Regions from separate parts of the Homo sapiens genome. Here region 2 is linked to region 1. Evidence: fine-mapped expression QTL. A gene starts in region 1. The other region holds a variant in brackets. All regions are shown on one strand. Distances are from middle to middle.

What was found. PIP is the estimated chance that this variant, and not a neighbour inherited with it, causes the effect. A credible set is the group of variants that fine-mapping cannot tell apart.
Region 2: its variant is the best candidate, but not a certain one, in a credible set for the expression of ADAMTS4 in whole blood (TOPMed, PIP 0.56).

Annotation. Positions count from the first base shown.
Region 1 is chr1:161,197,379-161,201,759 of GRCh38, forward strand. It overlaps ADAMTS4 (ADAM metallopeptidase with thrombospondin type 1 motif 4), which reads right to left and starts at 1,676. Exons shown (of 9, transcript NM_005099.6): 1 at 617-1,676. The coding sequence starts at 1,249. It also overlaps a transcript of NDUFS2 not described here. RefSeq lists enhancers at 1-415, 2,941-3,662.
Region 2 is chr1:161,161,190-161,165,570 of GRCh38, forward strand. USP21 (ubiquitin specific peptidase 21) reads left to right here. Exons shown (of 14, transcript NM_001014443.3): 3 at 1-51; 4 at 849-908; 5 at 1,081-1,201; 6 at 1,426-1,537; 7 at 1,730-1,885; 8 at 2,366-2,430; 9 at 2,689-2,792; 10 at 2,975-3,061; 11 at 3,345-3,423; 12 at 3,646-3,753; 13 at 3,840-3,954; 14 at 4,168-4,381. The coding sequence ends at 4,258. Among named protein-coding and RNA genes, the nearest start is that of PPOX, 3.0 kb to the right of the region's middle. The variant G/A (reference allele first, on the strand shown) is at 1,798.

The DNA of each region.
Region 1 (4,381 bases):
GGAGGGAAGGGAAGAAGGGGGAGACCAGGAGTGGGAGGGAGGAAAGGATGGAGCCTCAGGCAGCCTCGCAGTCCGGCCACAGTGTGTGAAGGGGATTGACCAGAAGGAGGTATGGGATACCCTCCCTCTCTTGCCACTCCTGCCCTAGTTTGCAGTTTGCCACAGTGATTTTAAAGGCAGCATCAGAAGCCAGACACCAAGCCCTAGGGCCTCAAACCTGACTCCTATAGCTGGGAGTGGGGGATGAAAATCAAATTTGGAGCAGAGAAAAGAGCCAAGGCCAAGGGGCTGTTAGGAGACCTTTACTGCTGGGGACTGTGTCAGTAGGAGATGCCATGGCCAGGAAGGGGTGGGGTGGGGAGAGGGAGCAGTTATTCCCAGCCCAGAGTCTGTGACCCACCTCTGAGAACCCTCGGTGGGTCTGGCTAGGAGAAGGGTGAAGGGGAGAGGCCTGAGCCTTACCAAGAAAGGAGGCTCATGGAGAAAGGAAAGGCAGGCAGAAGGGAGGGAAGCAGAACGGCCAGAAGTGTAAGTGGGTGGAGAGAGGGTGAATAGGGGTCAGTAGGACAGACATGGCGGGAGGACACCGCAGGACACAGACTCCAGAGATGCCTACCTTGGCTCTTCGGGGTCTGGGGCTGGGGCTTCCAAGAGGAGCCTTGACGTTGCACATGGGACCTTGACCGCTGGCAGGACTCTTCCGGCGTAGGATGTGAGCCCCAGGTCCCCCAGCAGAGTTAGGGGTGCCTCCCTCCAGGGGCTGGAGGTGGAGTTCAGCCCCCCGATATTGTAACACGCCTAACAGGGCTCCCCCATCCCAGTGCAGAGATGCCACCGACTCCGGATCTCCATTGATGGTGCCAGTCAGGTAGGTGCCAGGCTCTGCTCCACCCAGCAGCTCAGGCGCCTGGCCCAGGTACTGCACTGTCAGCCCCTCGACCTGCACACCGGAGTCCTGCTCCAGCTCTAGTAGCAGCGTCTCCCCAAAGGCCTGCAAGCGGCACAACAGCCTGGCAGGGGCGCCCGAGCCAGGCAGGACGCTGCCGTTGAGCTTCTCTGGAAACACGATCTCCTCCTCCCGGGGGAGGGGGCTGGCCAGCCGGGCTGAGGGCAGGAGAGAGGCCAGCAGTAGCAGAAGCAGCCACACCAGCCAGGAGAGCGGCACAATGGGGAGCAGGAGGCAGGGTTGGGCTCCCCACAGCCAGCGCCCTGCCAAGCCCCTCCCGGGATGCGAGCCTGTCTGGGACATGGCACTGGTACTGCAGCTGGGAGGGACTGAGGCCGTCTAGGGCACCAAGTCCTCCACACCCTAGCTTTGGAAAGCTCCTCTCTGTAGCCTGGGGGCTTGGACTCCTGCCAAGGTCAGAGGCAAAGTTTTCAGAAGGGCTGAGGACCGTTAAAGGAAATGGAGAAAACTTAGTCCTTGGGCTTGGGAGAGGTGCCCAGGGGTCTGGCTTCTCCAAACTCTCCTCCTGAGCCCTCCTTTCCTGGATCTTTGTCTCTCCCTGCCTGTGTCTTCTGCAGCTTCTCTGGCCTCTCCCTCTGTAGGACTCTGTCTGGGCCGCTTCTGTGCCTGCCCTGTCTCTGCCTTCTTCCGCTGTGCCTTTGTCTCTGTCTCTTTCCTCCTCTGTCTCTCTCGTGCATATGTGTCTGTGGGTCTCCCTGTGGGTTCTCCCCAGCCTCTCTCCGCGCCAGCTCTTTTAAGCATGGTGAGCCTCTGCGATTGATTGGCTGATCTCTAAGCCACTCAGCTGAGCTCTGTCGGTGGGACTCAGATGGGTGTATCATCGCTTCCCAAAAAAATGGGACTTGCCCAGGGGAGGGGAATCTCTAGCAGCCGAATGGATAATAGGCACTGGGCCAGCTGATGACATAGCCTTTTCCCAAACCCCACAATCAGCCCTCAGCTGTCTCTTTCCCTTTTTGGTGGGACAGAGCCCCAGGAGAGGCAGAGAGTGAGGGAAAGGGCCTGGCCGGCATGCACAGATAGGATCACGGTCCTGGGAGAATTCCTGCTCTTATAGTCTAACCTACCATGGCTTCTCTTTTCTCAAGGCTCCCTCATGCTGCCCTTTGGCCCTAGTGGCTGGTTTCCAGGGCTGAGGGGACTGAGTGAGCTGCCTGAGAAAAGAGGGTAGGGAACAGGTAAGGAGGCATCAAGAGGGAAGAACAAATAAAAGAGGTAGCTTGACATGGCTCAGGATAGAACTGAGCAGCTGGGAAGAGTAAAAAAGGCAGAACATTGGGGGAGGCAAGGAGACAGTGATCAGGGAGTTGACTGCCCAAAGGTAGGATGATCCTGCTTGGAATGAACATAACAGAGGCGGCAGATGACAAGGCAGGAGGGGTTAACGACTTTTCCTTTTATAGAAGGCGGATCCAGGGTGGCACCTCCTCTTTTCTAACGTCCCTTCTCTCCCTCAGGATCCCCCTTCCTGAGTTACCACTACCCACCCCCTCCAAAGCCCAGAACAGCCATTCCGCCTCCATTTCCCCCCAGGGTTCCCCCTCCCCACTTCCTGACTCCCCATTTCCCTGGCCCAGCTCCCAGTAGCTTCCCCCAGGCTTTTGGCCCTGCTCCTACCCACTCCCAACTGCCCTAAACCCTCCCCCAGCCTCAAGTCAGCCAGCCCCCAGCATAGGCAAGACTTGCTCTCAGGAACCCAGATTCACCCAGTATCAATCTGGGAGAATCCCCACCTGGCTCCCACCATCCACCCCACCTTGCTCTGAGAACCCAGTGGTTCCTGGAATATCTAGTCATCTTTTCTTTTTAATTCTCCCTGGGGCAGGGAGAGGGTGGAGACAGCATTGTGCATATAGGGAAATTAGGGTACTGGGAGAAATCCATTGCCTGGGGTGGGGAAAGTGGCTGGGGAGGAAGAGGTGGTGTTAGGGAAAGGAAGCAAATTATTCCTTTGGCTTTGGATAGGAGGGAACTCGGAAAAGAGGTCTTGGGTATGAACTCTCAAGGCAAGGAAGGGTTCAGAAGTAGGGGCAATTTCTGCTCACCCCATCCTCTGGCTGCTTGTTTCCCCAGGAAATCCCCAGGAAGGAGAGTGCAGTCAGCAGTCTCTTTCCTTTCCCAGAAGTGGACCACCTCCTCTTGCCTCTATTCCCCTATTCACTCTGCTTTGTCACCTCCTGTCCCCCGCATATCATATCCGTCAGAATACTTCCTTTCCCCCTCCCTTCCTGCTCAGGTCGGTAATACCTGCCCTGGTGCCTATCACTTCCTGGATCACCCACCCCCTTGTGACTGCCAGACCCACCTCTTGACCCACCACTTGCCTGACCCTGGTTCTAAGCCAACGGGGCTGGGACTAGAGGAGTCGGACAAAGGGTGGGAGACCAGAAGGGGCAGGGGCAAGAGGAGCTATCACCAGAGAACTCTACTGCCCCTTTCCACTCCCCTATTTGAGATGAGGACAAAGGGGGTGACTAAGCAATGAAAGACAAAGGGCTTTAGAGTGGCTGCAGCAGTGTGTGTGGGGGTGTTGGCAGCAGGGAGAAGGCACAAAAGCTGCAGTGTCCTAGGCAGCCCCTCAGGAGCCCCCCACCCCAGTCCCAGCTCAAGCTGCCTCCAGGGCCAAGCAGCCCAAAGTCTATCCTGACTTCTCCCAGGCTGGATCAAGGCAAATAAATGCAGTCCTTCCCATCCCCCACCACCATGGCCACATTTGCTGTGTTTCAACAATAGAAAGAAGGCCCAGGGAAAGAGCAAGGAATGAGGACAACAGAGGGACCAAACCTCTGCCCTGGCTCTGTGGCAGCTGCCTTGTCTAGCCCAGGTCCTGGTCAGTTCCCACAGCTAAGGATCTGGCCCCACCCTTTGGTACAGTTCCCATTAGGTCAATTCCCAGGCCAGAAGTCTGGCTTTCCCCTCTTTCTCTGCAGTGAAGAATTCCACCATCTCTGCTTCCTGGTCTGTCTGCCTCACCCTGCTGCGCTGCTGGTGGGCTGTGTCCCTGGGATCCTGTCTAGGGGATATCTGGGGAAGGCCTCTTTCCAGGCTCAGAGTTGGAGAGTTGTACAAACTCTACGGGTGGGTGGCCCAGCTGGAGTTGGGCTTAGAGGCAGAGGGAGAAAACAGGAACTAGCCTCTAAGGCTGGAAGAATCTTTGTCCATACAGAATTGTGATCAGACTCCTGGTGCTACTACATTTCCGTGCTGTTGGCCATTACCCAGGAGGGCTATAGCAGGGTCAGAAAGACGTTAGGGAAAAGAGGCTGACGCAAGACGGAAGTGGGGTGTGAGGCATCTCTAAGGGCGCTTCCTGGGTCTGTGATTCTGTAGGTTCGGGAAGCCTGGAGGATGTCAGGGTCACCCACAGAGGACCTCCACTCCCCCATCTGGGATGAGGTGGCTCCTACACACCCC
Region 2 (4,381 bases), 36 kb before region 1:
CACATGATATCCGCCCGGTCCTCTGAGCCTTTCTACTCTGATGACAAGATGGTGAGGACTTGCCACACACATGGCCTTCATGCCCATGTTCCTCTGTGCTTTCCTGCCATCCTCTGCCTTTTCTGTCCCCCATTTCCCTGAAGTTCCTTTCTCAGCCCTTCATTACAGCAGTTTGGACATGCCTCTCCCTTGCTTAAATACCCTTGAGCCTCCTAGACCCTTTTTTGGGTTGTTGGTGACTCTTCAGCATGGTGTGCCATTTCGGTCCCCAGGGGATTACCCCAACTATTTAGAATTCTTCTTTGGGTCCCCAGGCCCTTCCTTTCCCTTGCTTGCACCTTCTCTACTGGGACTCTGCCTAGGCCTAATTAATCTCTGGAGCTAAAGAGAGGCAGGCACAGAACATCTTAGCAAACGTGGTTGCACATTTTCTGAGCTAAGTAAGCTAGGCTGATTGCAATTGGAGCCAGCAGGAGAAGGGCAAGAAGGGGCCACGGGGGCAGGAGGGGGTTTTGGGGGCAGAAAGGTGGGAGTGGTGAGCAGCTGGGCAACCATGCCGGTGCTGGGGGAGTTGCCCCAGGAGCTGCAACGTCAGCTAGCTGAGCAGAGGAGTAAGTGGGCAACAGGTGGGACAGCCATGGCTGAGTCCGTGGTACATTCAGCTGTGATGGGCTTACTGCTCATGACCAGTGAGGTAGGGAGACTAGAATACCTAGTGAGGGGAATAGGGTAGAGTTTGGGGATGAAACATGCATGGGATGGGGGAGGCAGTGGGCAGCATGCTGTTGAAAGGTTAAAGTGCCAGGTAGGATATATAGGAACTTGCCGATTGTACTCTGACCTTCCAGGCTCATCACACACTCCTTCTGGGCTCTGGTCATGTTGGCCTTCGAAACCTGGGAAACACGGTGAGAGCTATTCTCCTATCTTTCCTCTCTAAAAGGAATGTGAAATGGTGCTGGGGGTGGGGAAAACCCACGAGCTTGGGGAAGGCATGTGGAAGGAGAGCTCTGAAGCTCTTCTAAGGCTTCCTGGGCAGTGGTCTGGAGAGATAACAGCAGTGTCCCTACTGCTCCCCAGTGCTTCCTGAATGCTGTGCTGCAGTGTCTGAGCAGCACTCGACCTCTTCGGGACTTCTGTCTGAGAAGGGACTTCCGGCAAGAGGTGCCTGGAGGAGGCCGAGCCCAAGAGCTCACTGAAGGTGGGGCAACAACTCCTGCTCCCTCTGTTCAAGTCCCTTTTTCCCCAACCACTTGCAGGTCCATCTGCCACTGGTGGTGGCCCCCAACCCTTAAATCTGGCAGTTGTATCTACTTTTCCCAGTGCCTACTTTCCTAAAGGTTATTTTCTACCCTCTGAGCCACCTTTTGCTTGCCTCTTCCAGACATTAACCTTTGTTTGCCTTCCCCACTCCCATCCCAACAGCCTTTGCAGATGTGATTGGTGCCCTCTGGCACCCTGACTCCTGCGAAGCTGTGAATCCTACTCGATTCCGAGCTGTCTTCCAGAAATATGTTCCCTCCTTCTCTGGATACAGGTGGGAGAGCTGGAGGCTATGGGATTTCTCTCTGGCCATGTCTGGGGGTAGGGCCAAGCAAGGGCCCTGGCAGCATTGTTCTGAGCCTTGAGATGTTCTTCATCCAGGAAGTGGGGACCAATATCTGGGCAGGGAATAGTGTCTGTGGACTAGGAGAGGAGTCAGTTGCCCATACTCTTTGTCTGGCTGTAGCCAGCAGGATGCCCAAGAGTTCCTGAAGCTCCTCATGGAGCGGCTACACCTTGAAATCAACCGCCGAG[G/A]CCGCCGGGCTCCACCGATACTTGCCAATGGTCCAGTTCCCTCTCCACCCCGCCGAGGAGGGGCTCTGCTAGAAGAACCTGAGTTAAGGTAAGGGTCGTTCCCTCTACCTCCTTTCCCCGTAGTTTATCAGCATCATTCACACTTCATAGAACTAAACTAGTAAAGATTGAAGATGTAGGGTCCAGGGAAACCCTTTAGTATAGAAAATAGTATGAGAAGCAACATAGAAGTAGAAGGAAGGAAGGAAGAGGGGGAGTCTAAGGGAGCAGATGGAGGCAGAAGATCATGCTAGGGATGTCACCAAATTGAAGAAGGGGATAATTCATTTACAGGTAGAGGAAGACAGCATATTCTTCCCTTATGTACATTCCTTTCTTTTCCTCTCACCTCGGATTTCCCTAGAAAGTTCATTGAGGCATTATTCTTTTGACTTTTCCTTGAAATTTAGGGAAGGAGCAGGGGTGTGGATGGGGAGTAGGGCTCTGTAGGTTGTTTCAGTGGGTGTTGGGGGTGCCCAGTGTTCCTGCTGTCTCATGGGTGCTCCCCACTTCCTTTGATCTGTGGTAGTGATGATGACCGAGCCAACCTAATGTGGAAACGTTACCTGGAGCGAGAGGACAGCAAGATTGTGGGTATGGAATGGGGCAAAGCAATGAGGGAAAATTAGTGTGTGAGGGGGGTACAGGCTTGGGGGGAAAAATCGATACTATCAAGGGGTATGGGAACAAGACTGGATGATGCAAATGTGAAGCTGTGTGAAGAGTTGATTAGGAGTGTTGGTAGTGGGAAAGGAAGGGTCAAGCAAAGGGGCAGGAAGAGATGGAAATCCAAGAAATCATCTCATAACATCCAACAATGACCTTTTCTCCTGTCCCTGTGCTTCTGTCTAGACCTGTTTGTGGGCCAGTTGAAAAGTTGTCTCAAGTGCCAGGCCTGTGGGTATCGCTCCACGACCTTCGAGGTTTTTTGTGACCTGTCCCTGCCCATCCCCAAGGTGGGATTCCAGAGGATTCCGGGGTGGACAGGACAGGGGCTCTGTGACCCAAGCCTACCCACCCCCAGAGTGTGGGCGGGAACCCTGTGGGTTTCTGGAGCAGAACTGAAGCCTGGATTGATTGAGAAGAGTTGGAAAAGGAAATTCAGAACATGTTGACCTTTCTTCCCCTTTTCCCCCAGAAAGGATTTGCTGGGGGCAAGGTGTCTCTGCGGGATTGTTTCAACCTTTTCACTAAGGAAGAAGAGCTAGAGTCGGAGAATGCCCCAGTATGTGGAGGTTCACAAGGGATACAGTAAGGGTGGGAGACCTGGGGGGACTCCATGTGGATAAAAGGGATTGCATGATGTCTTCATATGGGGAATAATATTTATGTATCTGGGTTTGTGTTGGAGTCTCAGATCTGTTCTAGTACTCCTAGAGCAAAGGGGAGAAGCCAAGAGGATCCAGCTGTAATGAAGAGCATACTAAATTTGTATGTGGATCGGGGTGTCAGAAAAGCCAATTGAGGTTAGGAGCATATTAACCTAACACTGTTTGCCATTTATTCAGGTGTGTGACCGATGTCGGCAGAAAACTCGAAGTACCAAAAAGTTGACAGTACAAAGATTCCCTCGAATCCTCGTGCTCCATATCCTAATCTTCAGATTCTTACTTCTCTTAGGATACCTCCCATACATTCTCTTTCCTCCATGTTTCCAGAGAATTGAATTTTCCTTAGGAAAAGTCTGCCACCCACTTTTCCACAAGATGCTCCCAGTGTGTCGGGAGTGGGGAGAGGACAGCTTTCAGGATAGAAGAAGTTCCCCTCAGAGGCCCACTGCCTCCCAAATGCTCCTTAACCAGGGCTTAGATCTGAATCGATTTTCTGCCTCCCGAGGCTCCATCAAAAAAAGTTCAGTAGGTGTAGACTTTCCACTGCAGCGACTGAGCCTAGGGGACTTTGCCAGTGACAAAGCCGGTGAGTCTGGTGGGGAAAGTCCTAAGGAGCCAAAGGAGTGGGGGCACAGCTCTGATTATAGAACTTGATCATCTCCAACCCCGCAGGAAGTCCTGTATACCAGCTGTATGCCCTTTGCAACCACTCAGGCAGCGTCCACTATGGCCACTACACAGCCCTGTGCCGGTGCCAGACTGGTTGGCATGTCTACAATGACTCTCGGTGAGAATAGCCTCCTATTTACATCCTGCCCCATTCCCACTCAGCCCTGACACCCTCCCCTTCTATGAAGCTCCAGGAGAGCAGAGTGCCAGGTGAAAGGAGAGGTGGAGGTCTTGCCTGATCATTTCCTGGATGCTCTGAGGTTCGGTCTTGTAGGGAGAAGGGAGTAAACAGGAATGACCACAACCCTTTCCCGATCTCCTTTTTTCCTAGTGTCTCCCCTGTCAGTGAAAACCAGGTGGCATCCAGCGAGGGCTACGTGCTGTTCTACCAACTGATGCAGGAGCCACCCCGGTGCCTGTGACACCTCTAAGCTCTGGCACCTGTGAAGCCCTTTAAACACCCTTAAGCCCCAGGCTCCCCGTTTACCTCAGAGACGTCTATTTTTGTGTCTTTTTAATCGGGGAGGGGGGAGGGGGTGGTTGTA